Regions from separate parts of the Homo sapiens genome. Here all the other regions are linked to region 2. Evidence: fine-mapped expression QTL. A gene starts in region 2. Each other region holds a variant in brackets. All regions are shown on one strand. Distances are from middle to middle. Region 1 overlaps CDH23 (cadherin related 23). Region 2 holds the start of VSIR (V-set immunoregulatory receptor). Region 3 overlaps CDH23 (cadherin related 23).

What was found.
Region 1: its variant is fine-mapped to the expression of VSIR in whole blood (TOPMed, PIP above 0.99).
Region 3: its variant is fine-mapped to the expression of VSIR in whole blood (TOPMed, PIP 0.93).

The regions. Positions count from the first base shown.
Region 1 is chr10:71,743,843-71,751,842 of GRCh38, forward strand. The region is part of intron 38 of CDH23 (cadherin related 23); the gene reads left to right. It overlaps VSIR (V-set immunoregulatory receptor), which reads right to left. Exons shown (of 7, transcript NM_022153.2): 6 at 7,826-8,000; 7 at 3,714-7,448. The coding sequence ends at 7,411. Among named protein-coding and RNA genes, the nearest start is that of VSIR, 26 kb to the right of the region's middle. RefSeq lists enhancers at 4,156-4,365, 4,751-4,800, 5,001-5,130. The variant C/G (reference allele first, on the strand shown) is at 3,609.
Region 2 is chr10:71,769,071-71,777,070 of GRCh38, forward strand. VSIR (V-set immunoregulatory receptor) reads right to left here and starts at 4,450. Exons shown (of 7, transcript NM_022153.2): 1 at 4,288-4,450. The coding sequence starts at 4,369. The region is part of intron 38 of CDH23 (cadherin related 23); the gene reads left to right. RefSeq lists silencers at 4,250-4,329, 4,350-4,679.
Region 3 is chr10:71,729,152-71,737,151 of GRCh38, forward strand. It overlaps CDH23 (cadherin related 23), which reads left to right. Exons shown (of 70, transcript NM_022124.6): 31 at 1,318-1,453; 32 at 2,836-3,224; 33 at 5,089-5,190; 34 at 5,505-5,507. It also overlaps a transcript of C10orf105 not described here. Among named protein-coding and RNA genes, the nearest start is that of C10orf105, 13 kb to the left of the region's middle. RefSeq lists a silencer at 339-530. The variant G/A (reference allele first, on the strand shown) is at 4,617.

The DNA of each region.
Region 1 (8,000 bases), 25 kb before region 2:
TGTGGATTTCAGGCTCAGAGGTGTCAGAGCTCATGTTTCTTGGCCTTTCCCTCATGGTGGCAAGATAGCTACTATAACTCTAGGCATCAAGTCAGCATCCAAGGCAGGAAGATGACAAAAAGATGGCAAAGGGCTATGGCAGCTACTTCTGCCCTTTTATCAGGAAAGCAACAGGTTTCCCAGAACCACCCTCCAGAGTGCTGCTTGTGTCTCCTTGGCCAGAAGTGGCTCACGTGGGCACCCTAGCTGCAAGGGAGGTTAGAAAAAATGAGGGACAGGATTATCATGGTCAGCATATTACTTGGGGGCCAGATATATCACTTCCCACACAAAAGCAGGCCTCTGTCAGTGAGGAAGAAGTGGAGAATGGATTTGGGGTGGGCATCTGACAGCATTTGCCACACTGCCCTCCCCAATCCTAATGCAGGCCAGTCAACGCACCACCCCCACTCCCCACCCACACTCCAACCCCCACAGTCCTAGGGTCTCTCAGGGAGACCATCGGTGGAATCCATAACATTCTAAGACCCTGCAGTTTGTAGGCAAAATCAGGCTTCCTTTGGGTCCCCAGAATAAATGGGAATTGAAGAAATGGAAAATCACCCTGGCCACAGTTAATCACCCAGAATGCATGGGCCACTATCCAAGCAATCCTTTAAAATCTTGGGATTGGTCCCCATGGCTAAAAAGAGTTTCCATCTGCTGGCCAAACCCTCTGCAGGGACCCATCCCACCCCTTGGGGAGCATAAGCATTCCCACCTCACATGTCAGCCCCTGACATTCTGGTTCTCACTGAAGCAGGGCTCAGCCCATACCAGCTCCCCGGTGAGAGCAGGAGAAGCTGGGTAGCATCCGCCCTGCTCATCCTGGTCATCACCAGCTCTGCTCCCTGAGGCCCCAGAAAACACCCTCAGGATGATTAGGACCAGGGACCCTGAGGCCATCCATCTCCAGGGGAATATATATGGGGCTTCCTGGGCTGAACCATGATGCTTTCTTCCAGACCGTAATATAAACAGCAACAGGTACCAACTTGAAAGATGTATAGGAAAACAATTTTAAGTCGAAAAGAATCCATCCATCTTCAATTTTTCCCCCTGCTTCTCCAAGTTGGGAAAATATTGCTATCATTTGGTTTTTGCAGGGGACACCTCAGTGAAGAATTGCAGTGACCATAGGGACATAGAGAAACTAGCACTAAACCATATTTATTCATTCATTCACTCATTCACTCATTCACTCATTCATTCATTCAGCCATTGTCCCTGAATGGCCACTATGTGCCAGGCACTGGAGATACCGAAATGAAGAAAATGTGGTCTGTGGCCTGAAGAAATGAAGTTGAGTAAGGGAGGCAATGAAAACACTGGTGTGCAATGGGGCACTGAGAAGGGCTTGGGGAAGGCTTCCTGGAGGAGGTGACACCTGGGCCGAGTCTTGTTGGTCAGTCTTGGTTAGCACAGCCAAGAAAGAAGCATATTCTGGGGTTCAGCCTGCACAAAGGCTGAAGAGCAAGCAATAATCAGGGATGGGTTCTGGGAGCCACAGGTGGTTTAGGCCCGGGGCTGCTTCCAAGGCCAAGGGCAGGACTCTCTATTTCCATATCCTCCCGGGACAGTGTATATGGGACTCGCCATAAGAGCTGCTCCCGCTGCCTTCTCAAGACCCCCCCTCTACTGCCTCCATGCCTGGCCGAGCCAAGGTGGGGATGGGGCAGAGCTAGCAAGCAGGGGTCCTGCAGCCCACAGTGCCTACCAGGGTAGCTTGCCTCCAAGGAGCACTGGACCCTTGAAGATTTGCTTCCACTGACCAGACCCTCAACTTTGGGCAGTAAACCCCTCAGGGTTATGAATATCCCCAAGAGCAGAGCCCTTCTCTGCCTCTGGGCAGATTTCACTGGATGCGTGTATGAGGAAGGAGCATTGTCCCAGCCCCTCCTAGAGCAACCAGAGACCTGAGCAGCATGCAGCCAACCACCCTGAGATTCCAGGAATGGCTGCCACAGTCTAATGGGTGAGACAGCAGCTGCTACCCTGCATAGATCCATCCAGAGAAAGCCAGCAGGCCCACTTGCCATCCTTTTACTCCCACTGCAGTTATCTGCCTGGCTTCAAAATGGCCTTCACTGGCTCAGGACCAACCTTGCTGGAGGACAAGGGCATGAAAGATTCATTCATTTGTTCATCCAACACCAAGTATGTGTTATGTGTGAGGCCTGTAGTACAGGCTAGGACACCAGAGATACATCAGGCACAGGTCTGCCCTCCAGGAGCCTACGGTCTGGCAGGGGAAGGCACATGTACTGGAGAGCTGACACTGTGATGTGGTAGAGTGCTAGGAGCCTGGAAGCCAGGGCAGGTTTTCTGGAGGAAGCATCATTTGCATCCCTGTTTTGAAAGATGTGGCTCCCTAAGCAGGGGGCCTGAGATTTGGCTGCTAAGACCCTCCCCAGAGCCAAGAGAAATTCTCTGAGTCCCTCCAGCTCTACTTTTCTCCCTGAGACCCTCGTCCCCCCAGGTTCCTGAGAGCTGGACATTCCTGCAAACAGCCTAGGCCACCCCCATCCGGCCTCAGCCCATATCACCCGAACTCGGAACAGCTGTGCTGCAAGGGGTATCTGGGCCAGACCCAGGCCCGCCACACAATGGTGTGCCACTGGCCGGGGGAGTCATTGTGGAGCCTCAGCCCCTGCCTAGCTCCAGGCCATGGGAAGACAGGCCAGGCTTGGGGGAGGGGTTTAAGTGGTTGTCAGGGAGGCCCCTGCAAAGGAAGAGCTGGGCCCAGGGAGGAAGGGCGGAAGGTAACTGGGAGGTCAGGAGTTAGCCCAACCTCAGAGGCACTTGGCAGTGGGGTGGAGAGGGAGGGAGGGCCTAACTGTGGCCTCCCTGCCACGTGAATTGCAGCCAACCGATACTACTATTCCAGATAAGAAGCCCTGGCTTCTCAGGCTGGTGAGGACCTGCAGAAGTCACCTATCCAGGCAGAAGGACAGAAATCTCCCACCGCCCCCTTCTGGTATGCAAGTCCCCAGCAGCGGCCCCGTGACGGTCTATGAGCTGGGGACACTGCTCTTGGCAGTACACCTCATGTCTTTAGAGCAGAGGCCCCTTCTGTTTATTAGACTTGGACCCTGCTATTGTGAACTCTGCTTCCCCTGGCTTGAGATCAGAAGGTCCCAGCCTGGCCCTCACCCTCTGTGGCACCAAGAAGGCTGGCCTTCCCTGACCCAGCACAAGTACATCCAGACCCTTCCCTTGGCCTGGCTTCTTGAGGGATGTTCCACAGCTGCCCAGATGCTCCACATACAACTGGCTAAGTTCCTCCAAGAGACCCTGGGGCTCAGCTGCTGAGGGTTTCTCCCTTCCCCATCCCCTAATGCAAGCAAGAGGGGTGCATGGGCCACTGTGCCTATCAGGAGTCCTCTAGCTCCACAGTTGGCAGGCAGAAAAGGGAGTGGCAGGAGCTGATATGGAAGGAGCCTACCCATCAGCAGCAGCGTCTTCTGGACCCAGAAGAAGGCCCAGGCCAGGGCAGGCAGAGCACAGATAGGAACGTTTCTGGTGTGCAGTACAGTGGAGCCCTGGACCTGTGGGCACAAGTTCATCTC[C/G]CAGAGCCCTTGTATGTGCTCTAAGCAAGTCCAAGGTGAAGGCCAAGCCAGGCCCTGGCCCATAATACCAATCCATTCAGTGAGGAGGAAGCAGGAGACCCAGGGTTTAGTCGTAGTTCCACCGTTTACTTGTTTTGACAAGACACAGACCTTTCAGAACCTCTATTGCCCTCTGTGTTAAATGGCAGCAATAAAACCTCCCAGGATTTTCAGGGAAGGGGGTGGATCAAACAAGTTACAACACATGTGAAAGTGTGTTGGAAAGCACCAAGTATTCTAACAGAAAAGGCCAAGAAACAGCATGCATGCTGCCACTTCCCTCTCCCGTGCCCAAGGCAGACATGGCTATCTATCTCGGCACTGTCTCACCAAGCTATATTGATCATTCAGAATCCCTCTCAACACATTCCAGGATAGTTAGGGTGACATAGCCTCCATGGGGTGAAGAGAAGCAGCAATGCAAAGCAGGGAATGCCCAGGGAATGGGCCAGGTGGCCTGTGCCGTCTATGGGCTGGGCCTCATGCTCAGCTGGGCTGTGGCTGGGCTTCAAGAGGCCTTTGTTCCCAGCATCCTGGTTAGCAACCCCAGTTCCTCTTTCGTGCATTGTGGTTCCCTGAGAAAACGTTAACCCAGCCCCCAGCACAGTCAGGCCAGCCCTGGGGAAGGCCTCATTCATGAGGCAGGACCCCAGGGGCCAAGTTGGTGCTCGGTGGTGGCAGGACCCCTGCAGCCCCCTGTCCCACTGCACACTCCCAAGTCCACCCCGCGAGGAGCACCCCCTGAAAAAGGCCATGTATCAGCCCCTCTGCCCTGGGCCACTGCATGTAGTGGGAGCTCTGGTCAGGCAGAAGTCTTTTGAAAAGCAGGTCCTGGGGCTCCTGCACCTCCACCCCAGCGCCCATCGCCACGGACTCCCCCAGGCAGGGCCAGCCTGCCCACCAGCAGTCACCAGTGGCCTCCATGGTGTGTTTTTAGGGAGTGCTGAGCAGTCCCCGCTGTGTCAGCAAAACCCTCCAAATGGTGCTTTCAATTCCATTCCTTCAGCCTCTCCCTGGGAGGGAATAAAGGCAGGAAGTCTCTATTAAACTGTGAATGTCAGGAGATAGGTAAGATGGCCCCTAATTCCTGATTGATCTCCTAACAATGAATTAGTTCTTAAAAGCATGGATTTCCCTCTCAGGGCCTCAGACTGTGCCACGAATCCAGCGCTCCAGGAGCCTCCTGCCCCAGCCCCTAGTGCTCCTCCCGCCCCCTGGAGGCGCCATGTTCTCGCACCCAGCTCTCCCATGCACCCCAGCCCACAGCCACCAGGGCTGGCATCAGAGGCACTACCATCCCGGGCAACTCAGAGGGCGGCTCCAGCAGCCTGCCCCTCCCCAGCAGCAGCAGGGAGGGACGTCCCTAGTGCGTTGTAGGCAGGGCCTGTGGCCATGGATGAAGATGGAACTGGGAGCTCAGAGTAAATTTCGCTGAAAACAGGAAACCACGAAGCCCAGATGCGTTCAGTTGTAAAAGGGTCCAGAGAAGAGAGGGCAGGGCCGCACCAGAGGAAGCTGAGGAGGAAGTGCGGTGGCTGTTCTGCTGCGGGCCGCCTCCCTCTCCACACAGCAGCAGCCAGGCCTGGGGTCTGGCAGCCAAATTCTTAGAAGTTGTCTCTGCCTCAAGGTCAGCAGCTGAGGGCTGGGGCCAGGCCAGCCTCCCCAGAGGGCAGGGCATGCTCTTCCTGAGTTGGGAGAACCGGAATCTGGGCTGTGGGCTTGTCCTTCGACTCCAGGAACAGCAGGTGTCCTGTCCCCACTCCTGCCATGCAGGCCCCCATGAATTGTGAAAAACATACCCTCTTTCCTTCTTTCTTTCTTTTTAAAATTTGTTTTGAGGCAAAGTTTTGCTCCGTCCCCAGGCTGGAGTGTAGTGGCTCGAACACAGCTCACAGCAGCCTTGAACACCTGGGCTTAAGCGGTCCTTCCACCTCAGCCCTGCAAAGTGCTGGGAGGACAGGTGTGTGCCACCATGGCCAGCCAGCACCCTCTTCCTATGGCAGCTGGCATCAAGCATTGTGGTGACCAGAGGGAACAAAAGAAGGGACCCCCCTCTGCCTAGGGACAAGGGAGAAGCCGGGGTTTGGGCATATTCTGGCCACTCGAGGTGTCAGCCCCATCTCCGGGCCTATGTTTACCCTCTCCTCAAAGCCCCTGGCCCAGCCCAGGCAGAGCAGGAGGCCCTCAGTGGACCATTCCTTTGGGCCTAACTGGGGGGCTTAGAAGCAGGGCCATGTGTCCAGGTGGGGTTCCCTGGCTGTAGCCACAGGCCCAGGGCTCACTGCTGCCAGGCAGCCTAGAGGTGCTCCCCTTTTCCATCCCCCCAACCCCCCAAGCAATTGGGCGAACATCTTCCCGCCTAGCCCCAAATCCTGGCTTTCAGCACCCAGGCCCAGCTCAGCAGAGCCAGTGTAGGCTGCTAGGAGACAAATGCCCAGGCTGGACTATGCTCTCCACAGTACCTGGGGCCCCCATCCTGCTAAACGCTACAGGGGGTCTGCCCAGCCCCACCTCACCTGTCCCCATGCTCAGGCACTGCCTTCCCTGTTTTACCCCCAGAGTGTACAGAGATGCCCCCTACTCTCCTCCCCTGCTTTAAAATCCTTCAATCACAATTCCACAGAGGACTCACCTTGCCTATGTGTATAAAAACAAAGCCAGGGCATGCCCACAAGCAGGAGATGGGAACATCACCCGCACCTGGCCGAATGGCTCTGAAGCGAAGACTCCACCAGGCCCAGATTGTATGGAGTGGAAGGTGGGGGTGGGGGAGGAGCAGCAGAGTGCAGATTTAAACTGGCTCTTACAATCCATCTCCAGGGTTTGCACCTGTTTCCCCATGTAGTTTTTAATAGCATCCCGCTTCATACTCAGAAGTGTCCCAGGGTGGACAAGACATTGTGTGGCACCCTTGCAATGGCCCGCGCTGAGCAGTGGGAGTAGGGGATGGGGAGGGCGGGGGGCAGGTGCCCCTCTCCACTCACCTTCCCAGAAGGCCCCACCCACCTCCCTCAGCACCATCTCCAGTGGGTGGGGCAACATCTGTCCTGGCCTCAGATTGCCCAAGACACCATTTGCTCACGGAGGCCACCATGCCCCAATATGTACTTCCCGTTTCGGGACCACCAAGCTCTGGGGACTGGAATGCAGGCAGTGGAAGCCCCAGATTGACTTAACCTGTTGACAGATCTTCAGAGAAACTGCTGGTAGGAGGCAGCTGGGGAAGGTGGCGATGGCCAGTGGGCAGGCAGGCCTGGCCCCAGAGCCACTGTGGTACAAAGAGGAAGTCTGACAGAAGAGCAGCCTCGGGCAAAACGGGGGAGCCAAGGCGGCCACGGGGGAGAAGTCTCTCCACCGTGCCCTGTGTCTGGTGCCTGGGAGGGTGGCCCAGTGTCCATCTTGTCCCACTGATGCTGCCACATCCCAAGGCTCATGTCTCAGAACGAGAGCTGCTGAAGGGCTGGACGTTCTGAGACTTCTTAAGATGTAAGTCATTTGGCATCTGTAGCTGGTGAATTTCAGGTCTCTAGGGGAGAATCTCAGCACCCCAAAATCCTTGGAACAGGGGCTGAGCCGTCCAGCATCCCCATGTAGCATCCAGAGGGGTTGAGGGGCTGGGCTTCTGGGATGTCACAGTATCTGAGCCCAGAGCAGGAGGGAGGGAACCAGGGCCGAGGCCAAGGAGGCCACTCACAGAGCCAGCCCTGGCTCAAATGCACCTGCCCCAGACCCAGCCACAACAGCCCACTGTCCCCCAGCTGGGCTAGATGACCTCAAAGTTTGGAGAGTCAGGGACAGGGTCTGCAAGAAAAGGAGAAGCAAAGTGAACGGGGCCCCTCTGCCCCTCACCCTCAACCCCACCCCGTGAGGCCGTGGAACTCTTCAGGGAGGTGAATGGGGGCCCCTCTGTCCCTCACCCTCAACCCCACCCCGTGAGGCCGTGGAACTCTTCAGGGAGGTGAATGGGGGCCCCTCTGTCCCTCACCCTCAACCCCACCCCGTGAGGCCGTGGAACTCTTCAGGGAGGTGAATGGGGGCCCCTCTGTCCCTCACCCTCAACCCCACCCCGTGAGGCCGTGGAACTCTTCAGGGAGGGCAGGGAGTGAGGCCGATGCCCTGCAGGCCATGAGGTCATGACCTTACAGGTCATCGTGCTGTGAAGGTCAGGAAACACTTACCCAGGGATGGGAAGAAGACGTCTCCGGGGCCTGGAGGAGACAGGGGGGTGCTGGGCTCCGAAAGCAGATGCCGCCCAGACTCAGAAGGCTGCCGCTGGGCCACATAGGACAGGGGGTGCCTGACTTTGGCCTCGGGTATCCCCTGGGCAGGTGGTGAGGCTTCAAAGCCGGGGTT
Region 2 (8,000 bases):
CAGCTTGCCTGGCCACGTCTACCACATAGTTTTACTTTTGGTTTTACATTAAATAACATTGAATCATATATAGAAGAGGTTATTCCCTTTACAATTATTTCAGTCCTGATTACATCAAAGAGAAAGTCTCAGTTTGATGCTAATATGTCTCTAAAACATTTGCTAATCTCCTTTTCTTTTTAAATTTTATTTTATTTTAATTTTTTGCAAGGGAAAGCAGCAGTTTTCAGACTCCGAGCCTTCCCAGGCTAAAGTTTCCAACTAGAATTCAATACCCTTATATGGTTTTCCTGTTACGTTCTTTTATGGTTTTGTTCTATTTATGACAAGTGATACTGGCTTTCCACTAATGACAGCGATAAAAAGTTTCCTTTTAAAGATCTACATACTCAAATAAAAGAATGAGTAGATTTAAAGAAAAAAATAAGTAAATATTATGAAAGGCAGACACTGCAGAGATCACAAAGGTGATAAGCAAATGACTGAAGCTAGGGAAACACCATCATGGAATTAACCTTCAGAGGAGGGTGGTCAGCCTCACTGAGACCACGTCACCCAACCTGTCCATTGCACAGACAAAGGGGAAGTGTGTGTTTGTGTTCCCATGATGAGTGAACAGCAGAGGCAGGGTTTGACCCCAGGTCCCCATGGGAAATAAGATCCTACGCAGAAAGGCTAAAGGAATGGGCTTGCTTGGCTTGGTAAGTAGCAGAGCAACCTCATTATTGGATTACTGATGAGAAAGATGGTGGCCACTGTCTTTGTCTTTGGTGATGGCCAGCCAAAGTGAATGGACCGAATGTAAAAAGATCAGATGTAAGAAAGATCCACCAAGATAAGCAAACCCAGGGCCAGGCTTGCCTTCAAGTTGCAATGTCCCCATCTCCTGACAACTTTAAGAAGAGAACCTGTAGGCACCTCCATGGGCATTTCAGACTGTGAGGGCCTACAGGGGCTCACAGGTAGCTGGACGCAGCCCATGCACCCTTCATACTCCAGGCTTTGGAGAATCTAGTCCCAGTGAAGCTCACCAATGCCTTCCCAGGCCCTGGGCACTCCATTAGGCCCTGTAGAGAGCAAGCAGCTTAGATAGAAAGCCAATGGCATGTGGCCTGCAGAAGCCAAGAAATACCATAATATTACACAGTATTCACGAGGAGCCGGGTGCTGTGTTAAGTGTTCGTTCATTGGCTCTTCACAGTTGCCCTCCAAGGGAGGTGGTATCATCTTCCCACTTTAGAGGGAGGGGAACTTGCTCAGGGAGACTGAATAACTTGTCCAATATCACAGAGCAGTAAATGGCCATCTTGGGATTTAAGCCTAGGTCTGAGTGACTCACAAAGCCCAAGAGTTAAGCAAGGGGCTGTACGGAAGCCCTGGCATGCATGTCCCTGGCTTTGCCATATACAGGCATGCTGGGACTGCAGCTAAGGGCATCTGTGGGGCCACTGGAAGCCACAGTGCTGATCCCTGGCCCACCCTCCCCTGGGAGACCAGACTGACCCTGGGTCATTGGTTGGCTAAAGCCTGGGGCCTCAAGTTTGGTATGTGGGGCTCGCTCACTGCCAACGGGTTCTCCTTGAGGATCCCTTTCTTCCTTTCATCTGCTCAGGCCTAACACCCCATACACTGTGTGCGGATAGGGAGGTGACCCCTTTAGCGTCTCAGCAGCACACTCCTGCCTGGACCACCCTCTCCCAGGAAGGTCAGACCCCAGCGGAACCTTTGCCCTGCTTGGGTGGAAGCATGAACAACTAGTACAGCTCAGCAAGGGACTCCCAGTATTGCTGGCCCTTGGGTGTCCCTGGCATTGGGTAGATGACCCCTCATGCCAGGGACTGGCCTCAAGGCTGTTCCTCTCTACTCCAGAGCCTCTGGGCAGTGGGTTGTGGATTTCCTAAGAGCTGACCATTGCTGCGTCAGAGGCTTGCAGCACTGGGTTACTCAACAAGGCCCTGCAGCCTGGTTTGCTATGAAGGAGAAGATGGGGTCTCTCGTCCCTAGCCCCAGTGCACTTAAATGTGCTAGTCCCAGAGGTTGGGAGTCCTGAGTCAGCCTGTGAGGACAGGGCAAGGACAGTAACTGCCTCGGGTCCTGGGAATGTCTGTGGGGAAGAAGAGGCTCTGCTACCCTTGAGATCTGCTGGGTCCTGGTCCCTAAGTGTACCTCTCCACCCATCTCACCCTGAGTCAGGCCCAGGAAAGGGGTATCTTTGGTGTTTCCTGGGCTTCTGAACACCACATTCATCACTACCATTCTCCTCAGTGCTGGCCCAACCCCAAGAGCTGGAGAACAGGCTGGCCCCGGCCACTCTATCTCACTTTCCCTGGCATAAAGGCTTTGACCTTGGGCAACATACCCAGGGCAACCCAGCACCTCGGCAGGCTGGTGATCAATCTTCTCAACTTACAGATCCTGCTGACCATGCCTGCAACCAGGCCTCCCATCTGCTATCTCCCTCAGTGCACACTGTCCTAGGGAGTTGGGTGAATATCTATTATAGTGTGTCCATGTCACAGTTCAGAATCCTGAGGTCCCAGAGCAATTCAAATGCTTCTGGCTCCTTTCAGTGGAAAGCTGCAGCCAGCCTAAATCATCTCCCTGTGCTGGGCCCAGGAAGAGATGACCCTTTAGTATACCATGTTGTTTGAGTAGCCAAGACCTCTGGGAGTAAAGGCCCCTGGCCATATAAGCAATATAGGGGAAGGCGTCCTGAGCTCCTCTTGGGGCCTCTCTGCTACTGGGTGCTCTGCAAGCTGGGTCCCTGTGCCCTGGATCTCTAGAAATGTTTCTCAAATTGGGGCTGCTGAACAGAGGGCAGCCCAGCCAAGTGAGGGCAGGAAGTGGGCAAGAAAGCAGGAAGGGTCTCACAGGGCCACCAGGGAGGGCAGTGCAGGGCAGGTGGCCCATGACAGGTGGGATGCTGGCTTGCCTGCCTGCCACCATCCTCTGTTCCTTCTGGAAGCCATGCCCTGCCATGAGCCATGGCCTTGGTGCTGAGACTGTCCATTCCACCTCCCATTCTCCTCCTCCCTCTGACTGTCACCTTGAGAAGCATCCACCCTGGGGCTTAGGGCAGCTGTGTCTGTGACATGTGGAGCCCTCCTCCTCCTCAGAGGCCCAGGCCAGCCTCCAAGTGCTGAGATAGCCAGCTGCCTGTGGGCACCCAGGTTGCTAAGGTATCTTCCAGGTTCAGCCTCCTCCTCTCCCTCTTATCCTATCACCCTCTCCTTCTATTCCATCCTGCCCACTGGGTCCCTGTGCCAAGCCCTCCACCTCCCTCCTGCCTCCCTCCGAGTCCCTGCATGACTCATACTTTCCCTGGGCCCTCCCTATAAAGTTTGGTTCCACAGGCTCTTTGAAGAGATCCAGCCTCTTCAGCTCTGGGCAGGCAAGAACTAGGCAACCAGGCCATGGGTACCAGGGCCTCTGCCCCCAGCCCGGGAGCCCCTGTGTTGGGGCCAGGATACTATCTGAACATGCTGACAGTCTGGACTTTGGAAGGGGAAAATGGTGCTTCCCTGTGTGGGCTTCTGTGTTTGAGCTGAGGAAACTGAGGCCAGAGAGATGCCGTAATTTATCCAGGGACCCAGAAGGGGCTCATAGCTGAGCTGAAGAGTGTCCCACATCCTCCCCAGTACTCCACACTGGTCCCTGAGTGGCAGCCTTGCTAGGATGGCAGGAATCAGCTGACCACTTATTCCTGGGCCATCAGACCCTTAGAATAGGGACCAGGTGGGCAGTGCTGCCTCTGTGTCTGAAAGTGGACCCACCGTGACCAGTGCCCAGTGCCCACCAAGGCTCAGCCAGGGGTTTCACCAGGGCATGGGGCACTGGCTGAGCATACCACGCCCTCTGTGTCCTCTGCAACACTAGAGCCCTGAGACTAGAGGGGCAGAAAGATGCCAGCTGTCAAAAGCCAGTGATATCCACCAGAACACACTGACCGCCCCCACCCTGTGCCTCTCCTTCTTTGCAGAAGCTACCTGTGCCCTGGGTTCTCTGGGCAGGGAAGGGCTGGACAGGCAGCCCTCAGGGGACAGCCCTGCCTGCCACTTGGGCAGCTGTCAGAGCATGCAGATGTGCCCGATGCCTAGCTGGGGCACTTGGCACAGTTGCCACTGCACCCTGCCTAGGGGTCCCAGCAGCCTCTGGGCGGTGGGTGGAGTGGGGTGCACGGTCACACAGGCTGAGAGGGCCCCCAGGACGCCCCCATCCCACAGTTCCCACTCCAGTCTGCTGTCTTCTCCCAGCTTTTTCCCAGCGCCCCGCCTCCCCCGACCTTACCTAGGGACGCAGCCAGGAAGAGAGCGAAGAGCAGGGATCCCCAGCGCCAGCTGCCGGCCTCCAGGGCCGTGGGGACGCCCATGTCGCCGTCGGACGCGCAGAGGAACTTCTGGTGCCGGGGAGCGGGCGGGACGCGGCCGGCGCGGGGAAGCCTCCCGCGACTGAGTGCGAGCGAGTGAGCGCTGCGGGCGGCCCCAGCGCCGTGCTCCAGGCACCCGCCCCCTTCGCGCAGCGCCCCCGGGGGGCCGTGTGGGGGAACTGCCTCTCCGAGGGCCGCGTGGGAGGGGCTTCCCGGAGGCCGGCCCCGTGGGTGGGGAGCCAGCGTGCGTCCCAGCGAGTCAGCTCCACTTGATCGGCAGTTTAAAGCCCGTTCTACCGTCCCCCAGTCCTTTTGGAGAGAAATTATTATTGCTGCGCAGCCTAAGAAGTAGATCTACCTCTAACAGCGTGATAGACGTTACCATGGCTTGCATCTGCCCTCAGCCACCAGCCTTTGAGTGATCTGGGGACAGAGACTTGTACCCTACATCCTCCAGCCAGACCAGGGCTTGGTATGTGGTAGGCACTCCCAGCTGTGGAATGAGTGAGTAAATGAGTGAATGAATGAAATCTGACATTGTGAAGAGCTAGGCAAGCTGGAGCCAGTTTAACTGTAGATTCAGAGCCTGAGGCACCCTGAGTGCATGCGCGCGCGCACACACACACACACACACACACACACACACACACACAGAACAGGTGCAGGACTACACGCCAAGATCAGCACATCCCTACCCCGGGACACACACAGATATGCAGGCAACACCTGTTGGCGTGCCCCACAGCACATCCTGCAAGCTCCCCTCCGGCAGAGGCCTCAGCTGTCCGCCTGGCTGTGCACCCGCCCTCCCTCCCTGGTGCCTGGATATCTGCAGGACACTCTGATGCACCCTAACTTCTAGTGCCTCTGCTCTTGCACCCACACCCAGCACTGCTGGCACCACTGGAATGTCTCTCCCCTCCTAATTCTTCTCATCCCTCAGGGCTCAGCTCAAGTCCTCCCACTTCACGAAATGTCCTGACCCTTCCTTTTTCCCGGCAAATCCTTACTGTCCACACCCCCTTCAGCTACCACCTCCAGCCTGAGATAACCAGCAGTTGGTTCTTCTTCCGGCTGTTCTGCCCTCCAGAGCGAAACTACAAACCTCTCTCTGATGTTTCTGAGACCCTAGCACAAAGCTGGGCGTGGAGAAGGTTTTACTGCACTTTTATCTGAATGGACAAACCAATGAGTGAGTGAGTGATTGTGTGATGGAGGAGCAGAGGTGATCGTGGCCAGGACCAGGGATCACAGGAGTGGAAGAGCACAGCCATTTTACTCAGTTTACCCCAGTCTAGCTGAAGCTTCCAGGGGTTTTTCTGGCACTTTAGGGATCTTGGGTTAATAGGTGACTCCTAGGCTGAGAGGCAGAGGACACTCAGAGTCTGACTGGGTCAGGAACCAGGGTATCAGGACTCAATGGGAGCCAGGAGTCCTGGGGGCCTTGTGGGTGGCCTGATCCAAGTCACGGGCTCTCTGGAGGCCCTTAGCCCTTGCTCTAAGGGCAGGGAAGGCTACAACAGAGGAAGGCTGAGGCATCATGTTATTACTAAGTGAACTTGTGCAGGCCCAGTCCCCCTGGAGCCAGTGAACTCCCCAGGATGGGAGCCCCAGAGGCTGGCAGGACATAACCCAGGTCCTTGGGCATGCTCCTGGCCTTGTGACCCCACCTTGGAAGGCAGCCCAGGGCCCTTCCTGCTGGCATAGCATGAGCTCCCTTCCACCAGGGGAGGTACAAAGCCAACTGAGATCAGGTGGACACCGGGCCCTTCTCACCCTGACATCCTCTGGCAAGTGAGGGGGGTCCCTTAAGGGCAAGATCCTAGAGCACCACCCCATCTCAACCCTTCCTGGACTGGCTTTGCTCAGGACACCCTTGAAACCAGACTCCCTCTTCCCCAGGGCCTAGCAGCCGGGGAGGGCCTGGAATTAGAGAAAGGGGAGCAATTGCCCTGCCAACCCCTTCCCCAGGGGGATAGAGCCTCTGAGCTGGGCCCAGTTCCCTCCCCCCTTTTCACTTCCTTTCTCCCTACCACACTGCCCACCACTGAGCCTCCTGGGGTTGCATCAGGGTGAGACACAGGCATTGCCCAAGGACCATGGTCCAGAAACCTCAAGCACTGTTTCCTCAACACCAGGGCAGGACAGGAAGGGCTCAGCTGAGAGGGCCTTTGGAGCACTGACTTTCTCCTCCCTCCGAGACCAGAGGAAGTCAAACCCACCTTCCCTCCCCAAGCCCAGACCTGGTCTCAGAGCAGGAGGGGCTCCAAGGCCCAACTCTGTTCAAACTCTCCACTCCCAGCCCCTGCAGCCTGCACACTCCATCATGTGTTTGTGCTTGTTTTCATTAAAAATAGTGGTGAAGGCCCCAAATATTCGAATAAAGATGACTGTCAAGGAAAGCCACCATGTCCATCTTGTGGCTCTGCAGGGCCTGGAGGCAGCTGTGAGTACTCTCTACTGGTGAGGGGCCCAGCCTTGAGCCTTCCTGAGTCCCCTTACTTGCCGGCAAGAATACAAGAGCACCACATTGCAGGAAAGGGGCTGAATTCCAGCCTCCCTGTTGGGGAGGGGATGCTGACATTTCCCACATTCCCAAACTCACCTCCCAAACTCCCTGAGCTAGAAACAACTTTAGAAATCAAGCCAGGTCCTTTATTAAACAGACAGAAAAGGTCCAGAGAGGGGATGTGACCTGCCCAAGGCCACGCAGCTCCTTTTCAAGGCTGCCAACCCTATCTGCTTTGGAAACCGTTTCAGCAAACACCCAATGCCCTCCACCCCCAAGATCCAGAGCTGCATATCAGAGGAATCATTGCCTCCTCAGGGGCAGTGACAGCCTTCTTGGGTCCAGATCCCCTGCCCATCTGTCCATTCTTCCAGTGGTAGCTCCAGAGCCAGCCAGTCCCAAGGAAAAAACCATATGCAAATTGCCTACATTGAGTTGTCTGTACCACCTGCTTTCTGTTCTCTGGCCTGGCAATGGCCTAGTCACGTTCTCTCTACCCAGACACCTTTGCAGTGATTAACACCTTATTATTTTATATTAGTCACTCATTATGATTTGTATTAGTTAGGGTCCTGGCAGGAAACAGATGGCACACTCAGAAAGGGTTCAACTGAAGAGAGTTTAATACAGGGACTGTTTAGGAAGGCTGGTAAAGCACCCAGAGACTAGCACCAACCACAGGAAGCCACTACCACTCACATGTCCAAAGGGAAAGAAGAGGAAGTGATGTTCTGGAGCCCAGTGAAAGCTGGTGCTATGAAAGGGGGACCCCTGTCCCCAAGCAGGAGAAACACAGCCATGGGCAGAACCGCAGTGAGGAATGGAGGGAGTGTGGAAGAAACACCCCCGCCTCTTTCTCCCCACTGCTTTCATCTTCAGCCAGGGCCTCCCATTGGCCACACCCAGCAGGAAGCTGGATAGCAAGGGAGCCAGGGTAAGGCAGTTAGTCCACAGGGGACATCTTCCCAGGTGGAGAAAGGCAGGAAGCAGGAGCAAGAACCATTTCTAGTTGATTCTTGAGTGCTGATTGCCGAGTTCTGATTAGCTGAATATTACTTGTGGTCCAATTGACTCAAGCATTGGCAGAGATGGCCGATCACAGGAGAGTATGTTGTAGAAGCTGTT
Region 3 (8,000 bases), 40 kb before region 2:
AACTGTATTACGTTCATGATGTACAGTGCACACATTCATAAAGAGAACTTAGTGCTGGTAAGCGGTGAGGAAAATGGTGCGTAATTGCACAATTCAGAAACAGCCACTGCCTTGGATGGGGGCCTCAGAAGCAAACCCTGAGACAAGGATTGGTGTGAAAGTAATGTGTAAGAAGCGCCCACAGGAAAAGGTGGAACAGGGTGCAACCAGCAAGGAAAAACAGACAGCAAAGTGTCATGGAGGGAGCTAGGCCTCCGTCCCCCAGGGAGCCCTAAAGCGTCCCCTCACTGCCCCAAACAGGGCCAGGGAAGCTGGAGTCTTTGCTCTCCACGCCCATCAATCATTGGCTCAGGGCTGCCCTAGGGGACGGAAGTTCCCAGGCATTTCTGCTCACTGGGCTGGTTTCCAACAGCCCGGGTGTGGGTGCAGTGGGGTGGGGTTGGTCTTCCCCAAAGAGCCTTAGGGGCTGGGAGCTGGCCGTGAGAAGGTGCACAAGTAAAGAGTACTGAGCACTGACATTCTCTACTACAACTGCCATTGTATTTTCACCTCTATTTTCCAAGATATATTTTAATATTTGATTGGGATCACTTTGAATTTTTTCAAGAACTTTTGCAGGCCCTGGCTCATTTTGTCTTCATAACAACCTTAGGAGTGGCATGGAGTGTGAACTATTTTATTATTATTAATTTTTTTTTTTTGAGATGGAGTCTCGCTCTGTTGCCCAGGCTGGAGTGCAGTGGCGCGATCTTGGTTCACTGCAACCTCTGCCTCCCGGGTTCACACCATTCTCCTCCCTCAGCCTCCTGAGTAGCTGGGACTACAGGCGCCCGCCACCACGCCCGGCTAATTTTTTGTATTTTTAGTAGAGATGGGGTTTCACCGTGTTAGCCAGGATGGTCTCGATCTTCTGACCTCGTGATCTGCCCACCTCGGCCTCCCAAAGTGCTGCTGGGATTACAGGCGTGAGCCACCGCGCCCGGCCGAATTATTATCTTAATATTACCACTTTATAGCTGGGAAACTGGGGGCCCCAAAGAGTCACTAATTAGTCAGATGTTCCACAGCATTAGTCAAAAAGCCAAGAGCAAGATGAAGTTCATTCCGAAACAAGTAATGTTTGAGCACCTGCCACGCGCCAGGTGCTGTGCAAGGTGGTGGTCACAGTGACCCACCAGACAGGCCTGGGGTCCTAGAGGGAGCTCACAGCAGGCCCAGGAAAGCAGTGACCACACAAGGCGGCCACAGTGGGCCAAGCCCTGGGCTTCCCAGCCTCCACCCCACCCTGACCTTGCACCCCTGGCCCGGCTCCCACAGGTGATTGTGTACGTGGAGGACATCAACGATGAGGCCCCCGTGTTCACACAGCAGCAGTACAGCCGTCTGGGGCTTCGAGAGACCGCAGGCATTGGAACGTCAGTCATCGTGGTCCAAGCCACAGACCGAGACTCTGGTGAGGCTGGCAGGAGGAAGCCGGGGATCCCATTGCTCAGAGCAAACCTCCCCAGCTCACCCAGCCCCTCCTTCGAAACGGTCATCCCTGATGCTTCAGGCTCCCCATTTAGCCATGTCTAGGCCAGGGAGGGGCTGCTGGGATGGTCTTGATCACTTCCCACCAGTGGCCCCAGCCTGAGAGGGTTGGAATCAGGGAGAGTTGTCCCAACCACTGGGTGGACAGAGGGGAGGCCACAAGCTTGAGAAGTCCAGCTCCGTCATCCCAGGACCCAGCAGCTCCCACTAGCCTTTAGAGAGGGGCTGGGCAGAGCTGGGAGGGGTAAAGAGGACCGGTCAGAAAGCTGGCTGCGGCCTGGCCTGCTCCTCCAGCCCCTCCACGCCTTCCAGGACCAGCTCAGGGCCTAGCACACGCAGACCCCCTGACCCTGTACAAGGGGCAGTACCCTTCCTGTGCCGCAGGGCAGTAGCCTGAAGGCAGCCTGAACCTTGCTGAGGGCCCAAGCCCCAGAGGCGGCCACAGCCCGCAGTGCAAAATGAAGGGGAAGCATGCCGGGTCTCTGTGGCCCTCCGTGCGGCCTGGGCTGTCTGGCCTGTACCCCAGTCAGGGATACAGCTGAAAAGGAGCATTTTCTGGAGACCCACTGTCCCCCAGAGAGGCTCCCTGAGCTGCTCATCCTTCATGTCAGCTACTCTGGTGGCTCCCAACTCCTCTCTCAGCATCCTCAGATTATCTGTGGCATGCATGGGATGGGGTGGAGGGAGGAATGGCTGCAAATTCTCAGGCGGAATCTCAGGCATGTTAGGAGAGTTTAGGGCACATACGCGGCTGTGGCCCCTTGAGGTCTGTGAACTTCAGCTTAGGAATCCCAGCTCTAGCTCCTGATTGAATGGTTTGTTTCAAGGCACAGGAATTTGGGGCGTAGGGAGTGGGGAGGATGGGGGAAGGTGTCCCTGACACTGAAGCCCTTCTGTCGAAGGGACCAAACCAAGGCTTGGCCATCTGTGAGGATGCGTTCTAGATCAAAGCCTCCACTACAAGAGATCCTTCATTTCCCCCAATGCTTGTATGTCCAGATATCAAAGGGAGGTACATGAGCTTGAATTTTGAGGCTCCAGGAGCAGACCCAACTCTTTCTGTCCTATCTCTGGTGCCAAGGCCAAGCCCCAGAGGAAGGCTCAACAGTGCATGCTGGACCTTGCCATCCACATTGACCTTAACACATCCTCTGCTGCATCTCTGAGGATGATCCTGCCGGCAGAGGTGGGGCAGCCCATGCTGGGTGGGCCACCCAGGGGGTATGGGTGTGGCAGCTTGAGAAGCCACAGCGCAGCCCCACTCAGTTCTATCTGGGACTGCACAGCCTCTGTGTCCTCCTACAGGGGATGGTGGCCTGGTGAACTACCGCATCCTGTCGGGCGCAGAGGGGAAGTTTGAGATTGACGAGAGCACAGGGCTTATCATCACCGTGAATTACCTGGACTACGAGACCAAGACCAGCTACATGATGAATGTGTCGGCCACTGACCAGGCCCCGCCCTTCAACCAGGGCTTCTGCAGCGTCTACATCACTCTGCTCAACGAGCTGGACGAGGCCGTGCAGTTCTCCAATGCCTCATACGAGGCTGCCATCCTGGAGAATCTGGCACTGGGTACTGAGATTGTGCGGGTCCAGGCCTACTCCATCGACAACCTCAACCAAATCACGTACCGCTTCAACGCCTACACCAGCACCCAGGCCAAAGCCCTCTTCAAGATAGACGCCATCACGGTGAGGGGCTGGGGGCAGGGAGCACCATTTCTTCCAATCTAACCAACATTGGTTGAGCTCCTTCTGTGTGCACAGCACTCTCCTCTTTGTCATAAAATGTCCTTGAGATGGCCAAGTGTGGTGTTAGGTACCTGTAGTCCCAGCTGCTTGAGAGGCTGGGGCAGGAAGATTGCTTCAGCTCAGGAGTTTGGAGGCTGCAGTGAGCTGCGTTTGCACCACTGCACTCCAGCCCGGGCAACAGAGTGAGACCTTGTCTCTTACAAAGAAACAAAAAAAAGTCCCCGAGATCAATATCCCTGTAACACATCCATTTTCATATGTAGGAGTAAGATAAAGTTTATACCTATGCAGGCTGGTATCCTTCTGTTTTTCCTTCTGTTTTCACACCCATCACAGATCCTTCACCTCTGGTCATCGAAGTGTGTGTGGGGTTTTCCCCCATTATCGGCAACCAATTATCTGACTCTCTTGACACCAGCTGGGAATCCTATAGTTTGATTTAATTCTGAACATTTCTACCTGGAGTTAGCGTCAGATCCCACAGGCTCACAGCTCAGTCCCTCCCACACACCACGCAATTCTCCAGTAGACACCATAGTGTCAGATCCCACAGGTTGAGGGCTCAGTCTCACAAAACTGCCTCCACTTCAGCTGCCAATCACAACCTCTAGGTTGTTTGACCCATGCTTCTGACCAACTGGCTAAATCAGAGTTCCCACAACCCCCTCCACAAGTTCGATGAATTTGCTAGAGCAGCTTGCAGAACTCAGGGAAACACTTTACTTACTATTACCAAAGTATTATGAAGGATAGTCTAAAGGATACCAACAAACAGCTGAATGAAGAGACACACAGAGCAAGGCATGGGAGAAGGGGCCCAGAGCTTCGGTGCCCTCCTCGGACATGCCACCCTCCAGGCACCCCTACATGTTCAGCAGACTGCAAGCTCTCTGTAGTTCAGGGATGTCTATGGAGGCTTCATCACATAGGTACGATCAATTATTAACTGAATCTCCAGCCTCTGTCCTCTTCCTGGAAAGTAAAGGGTGTAGAGGCAGGGCTGAACATTTCAAGCTGTTTATCCTGGCTTGGTCTTTCTGGTGATCAGCCCCAACCGAGGACCCCACCAAGAGTTGCCTCATTAGAACAAAAGACTCCTATCACCTAGGAAATGCCAGGGGATTAAGAGCTTTGTGCCAGGAACCAGGGACAGAGACCAAATGCATATTTCTTATATCACAATGTCACAGAAAGCTCTGCAAGTCATATTTCCCTTTTCACCTTGGCTGTTAGGAAGCTCAGACATAAATGCTGGGCTTCATTGCAATAGTTATTCTTAGCTAGTTGTCTGGTACACCAGTCTCTTATCTACTGCCAGGCTCTTACTCCTTC[G/A]TCTTTGCTTTAGTGTATCTTTTATCAGAATTCCTTCTTTGAAAGTAGGCAAGGTGTGAATCACTACAACGTGACAGGCCTTGTCCTAGAGGATACTGGGAACACAAATGGACACAAAGATGAACAAGACCCTTCTCAGTCCTCAAAGAGTTCTCAGGCTAGAAGTGGAAATGGAACTAATCCAGGATGCAAATCAGAGCGCCACAAGAAGATGTGCAGAGAACTACAACAGAGGGGTAGTGGAGCCCCTCAGGGCCCAGCAGTCATACCTGGCTGGGGAAGCAGGAAGGCTTCATGGAAGAGGTGGCTTCCCAGTGGAATGTGAGAGAGAAGAAGGAATTCAACAGACAGAGTGTCCTGGGGAAGTTATGCCGGACAGAGGAAGTGACATGGAGGTGGAAAAGTGGGCAGAATGACCAGGGTTAACAAGGGTGCGATGTTGTCACTCACCCATCTGGCCCCTTCCCTGCAGGGTGTGATCACAGTCCAGGGCCTGGTGGACCGTGAGAAGGGCGACTTCTATACCTTGACAGTGGTGGCAGATGACGGCGGCCCCAAGGTGGACTCCACCGTGGTGAGTGGGACCAGGGTGAGAGTCCCTCAGGTGCGGCCCATCGCTGGCCATGACACTTCCTAACCCATGTCCTCGCCAGCCACCCAATGTATGGGCCAGGCAGCGGGCGAGGGTCTTGATAGCCTGAGGCTTCGCCATGTCCAGCCATGCCACACCTTCCCAGCAGGTTGGGCTAGGATGAGACCTCAGGCAGGTGGAGGGTGGCACCTCCAGAGACACTGCCGGGAGTGGGGTCTGGAAGAGCCACAGACGGCTAACCATTTGCATCTTTGCCTTTTCTCTCACTCCCCTCCTGCTGCTGCCTCTGCCTACAGAAGGTGAGTAGCCTGTGGCTGGAGCTTCCCCTGTGCTGTTGGCTGTGGCCAGTGCTGGCCGGGCTCTGCCTGGCCCTGGACCTTCCCACCTCTCCCAGAGAGAAGGCACGTGGACAGGCCTGCAGCAGGCCCCCTCCCAGTGCCTCCACTCTCACACCTGAGTTCAGGCCCCTCTGGGGCATGTCCCCTGCCTCCAACTCTGTCCTCTGTGTCTTGCCTAGCCCCGGTAGGGTCTTGGGTGGGGAGAGTACTAGCAAAGGAGTCACTGGAAGACCACTGAGGGCTCATCCCAGCTCCACTCCTCGATGGCTGTGTGACACAGGCAAGCTGCTTAACGTCTCTGTGCTTCCCTTCCTCGGGTCTAAAACGAGGGTCATGCCAGCATCCCTGCCATCCTCAGAGGATGAGATGGAAGCAGCAAGAGATTGCAGGCAGAAAGCCCTTTGTAAGCCAGTCCTGGAAGCAGATGTGACTGCAGTGGGGCTCTGTCCTGATGCCTCAGCTGCTGCATCCATAAAGGGGACCCCCTCCCTCTCCTGGGGGTTGGTGCAAGTGTGTGGGGTGGGATGCACATTGTGGGGCCTGGGAGCGCTTAGGAAGGGGACCATGGGCACAGGTTGTTTCTCCCTCAGGACAGCCTCTAAGTAAAGGCAGAGAAGACCATGTGCTGGGCCCCTGGGGGAGGGGGGCCCACTGAGGTCAGAAGAGCCAGACAACGTTCCTAGAAGAGGCGGCCCGGCCTGAAGGGAGAGGCAGGCAGGGGAGCTCATGCTGGGGTTGCAATGGGAGTGGGTCCAGGGCCAGCTACCTGAGAGAGGTCCATGGGATGGCATCCTGTGGTGATCCCAGGACACTCAGCCATCAATCTGGCCTGGACACTGGCCAGTCACATCAGCTACCATCTAGAGACCACCTGGGGCATCAGGCTCCTCATCAGCCTTGGTTACAGCCACATTGCCACGCCCTGCTGAGTCCCTGTCACATTAACCTAAAAAAGCTAGAAGCCAACTCAGTGTCCAAGCCAAGAGCCAAACACAATTTCTTGGGGTTCTTGGCCCCAAGGCTCCCTGGAGGTGCCCAGTTCTAGCGGCACTGGTTGTGGCTGGGCCATACCTAAAGGCCCCCTCCATCCGTGGGGCCAGCCTGGGGGTGAGTGAGGCTGTGATGGGCAAGAAGTCTCCACAGCTCCCCTCAGCTATGCTCCCCAAGGGCAGCCGGTGAGCAGAGCGCTCGGGCAGTGGGTGCCGAGCCACCTGCGTCCTGCCACTCCCAGCCAAGGGGCAGACACTCAGGGGTAAAGTGGGACCCTCTTACTGAGCCTCACCCTCTTCATTCATACAATGGGCCCACCTGGCCCTCACACAGCAGGTGTTGCGAGAAGGCTGGGAGGAGAGGCCAGTGGGAGCCCAAGGGTGGCAGGGATGGAAAGGAGGTCCCCCTGCGTGGACTGCCAGCCACTTCCTCAGCACGGCTGTTGAGGGCTTCGGAGCACACACTTCTGCCTGTGCCCCTGTATTTCCACAGTGCTTTGCCCTCTTCCGGTTAGCAGGGCCCACCCCCTTTTGTTCTGCCCTGGCTTCCTCTGAGAGGCTCCCAGGGGCCGCTGCCCCAGATCCACCAGCCCCGGTAGCCCCAAACACTGTTTGAGGTGCTAGGGTGGAGGCAGAGGAAGGGGCCCTTTAAAGGTGGAAACATTTCCTCTGCTAGGCCGGAACCCAAACCACAGCTCACCTCCACCTGGCTCCTCCCTGTCCCCAGCAGCCCTGGCCGGCCCCAGAAGGAGTGGTCAGGCAGACCAGAAGGGGCAGGCTGGGTAGGGCATGGCTCTGCTATAAGAGCTCTTGAGTAAGTTCAGGCCTTCAGGGGGTAGGGGAGGGCAATGTGGATTGTGAGGCCCTGGGTGAAGACACAGACACCCATCTCATTCCCATAGGCCTGGGAACCTGTCCTCCTTCCTCACCCACTGAGGCCAACCCCCTTCCACTGGGAAGTCCAGCAGCCCCCCTCACCCCTGCCTTGCAGCCTCACCAAGATCAGAGCAGTAGTCATTGTGGGAACACCTGCTGTGTCCCAGGCACTAGGCTGGGTTCAGGTTACAGCAAGAAACCAAAATTAGACATATCCCTTGCCTTCCTAAGTGTACGATACAGTGAGGGAAAGACATTGATCAAATGATCACAGCAGTAAATGTATGCCCTGAGAGAAAGCCTATAATAAGGTGTCAGGGAACTAGAAGAGGGCTTCCCTGAGGAAGGGACTCAAGCTGAGAGCGTCAGAATGCATGAGAGTTAACCCAGCCTAAAAAGGAAGAGCATTTCGGGCAGAGGGAACGGCAAGCACAAAAGCCCTGTGGTGTGAGGAAACACGGTGAGTCTAAATGAGGCCTTAGCTAGAGTGAGGGGGTTTGGGAGGGATCCGATCACAAGGACCCTTGTCTGTTTTCACCCTGAGAACAGTGTGATAGGTATTGTTTTTCCCATTTCAAATGGGCGGACT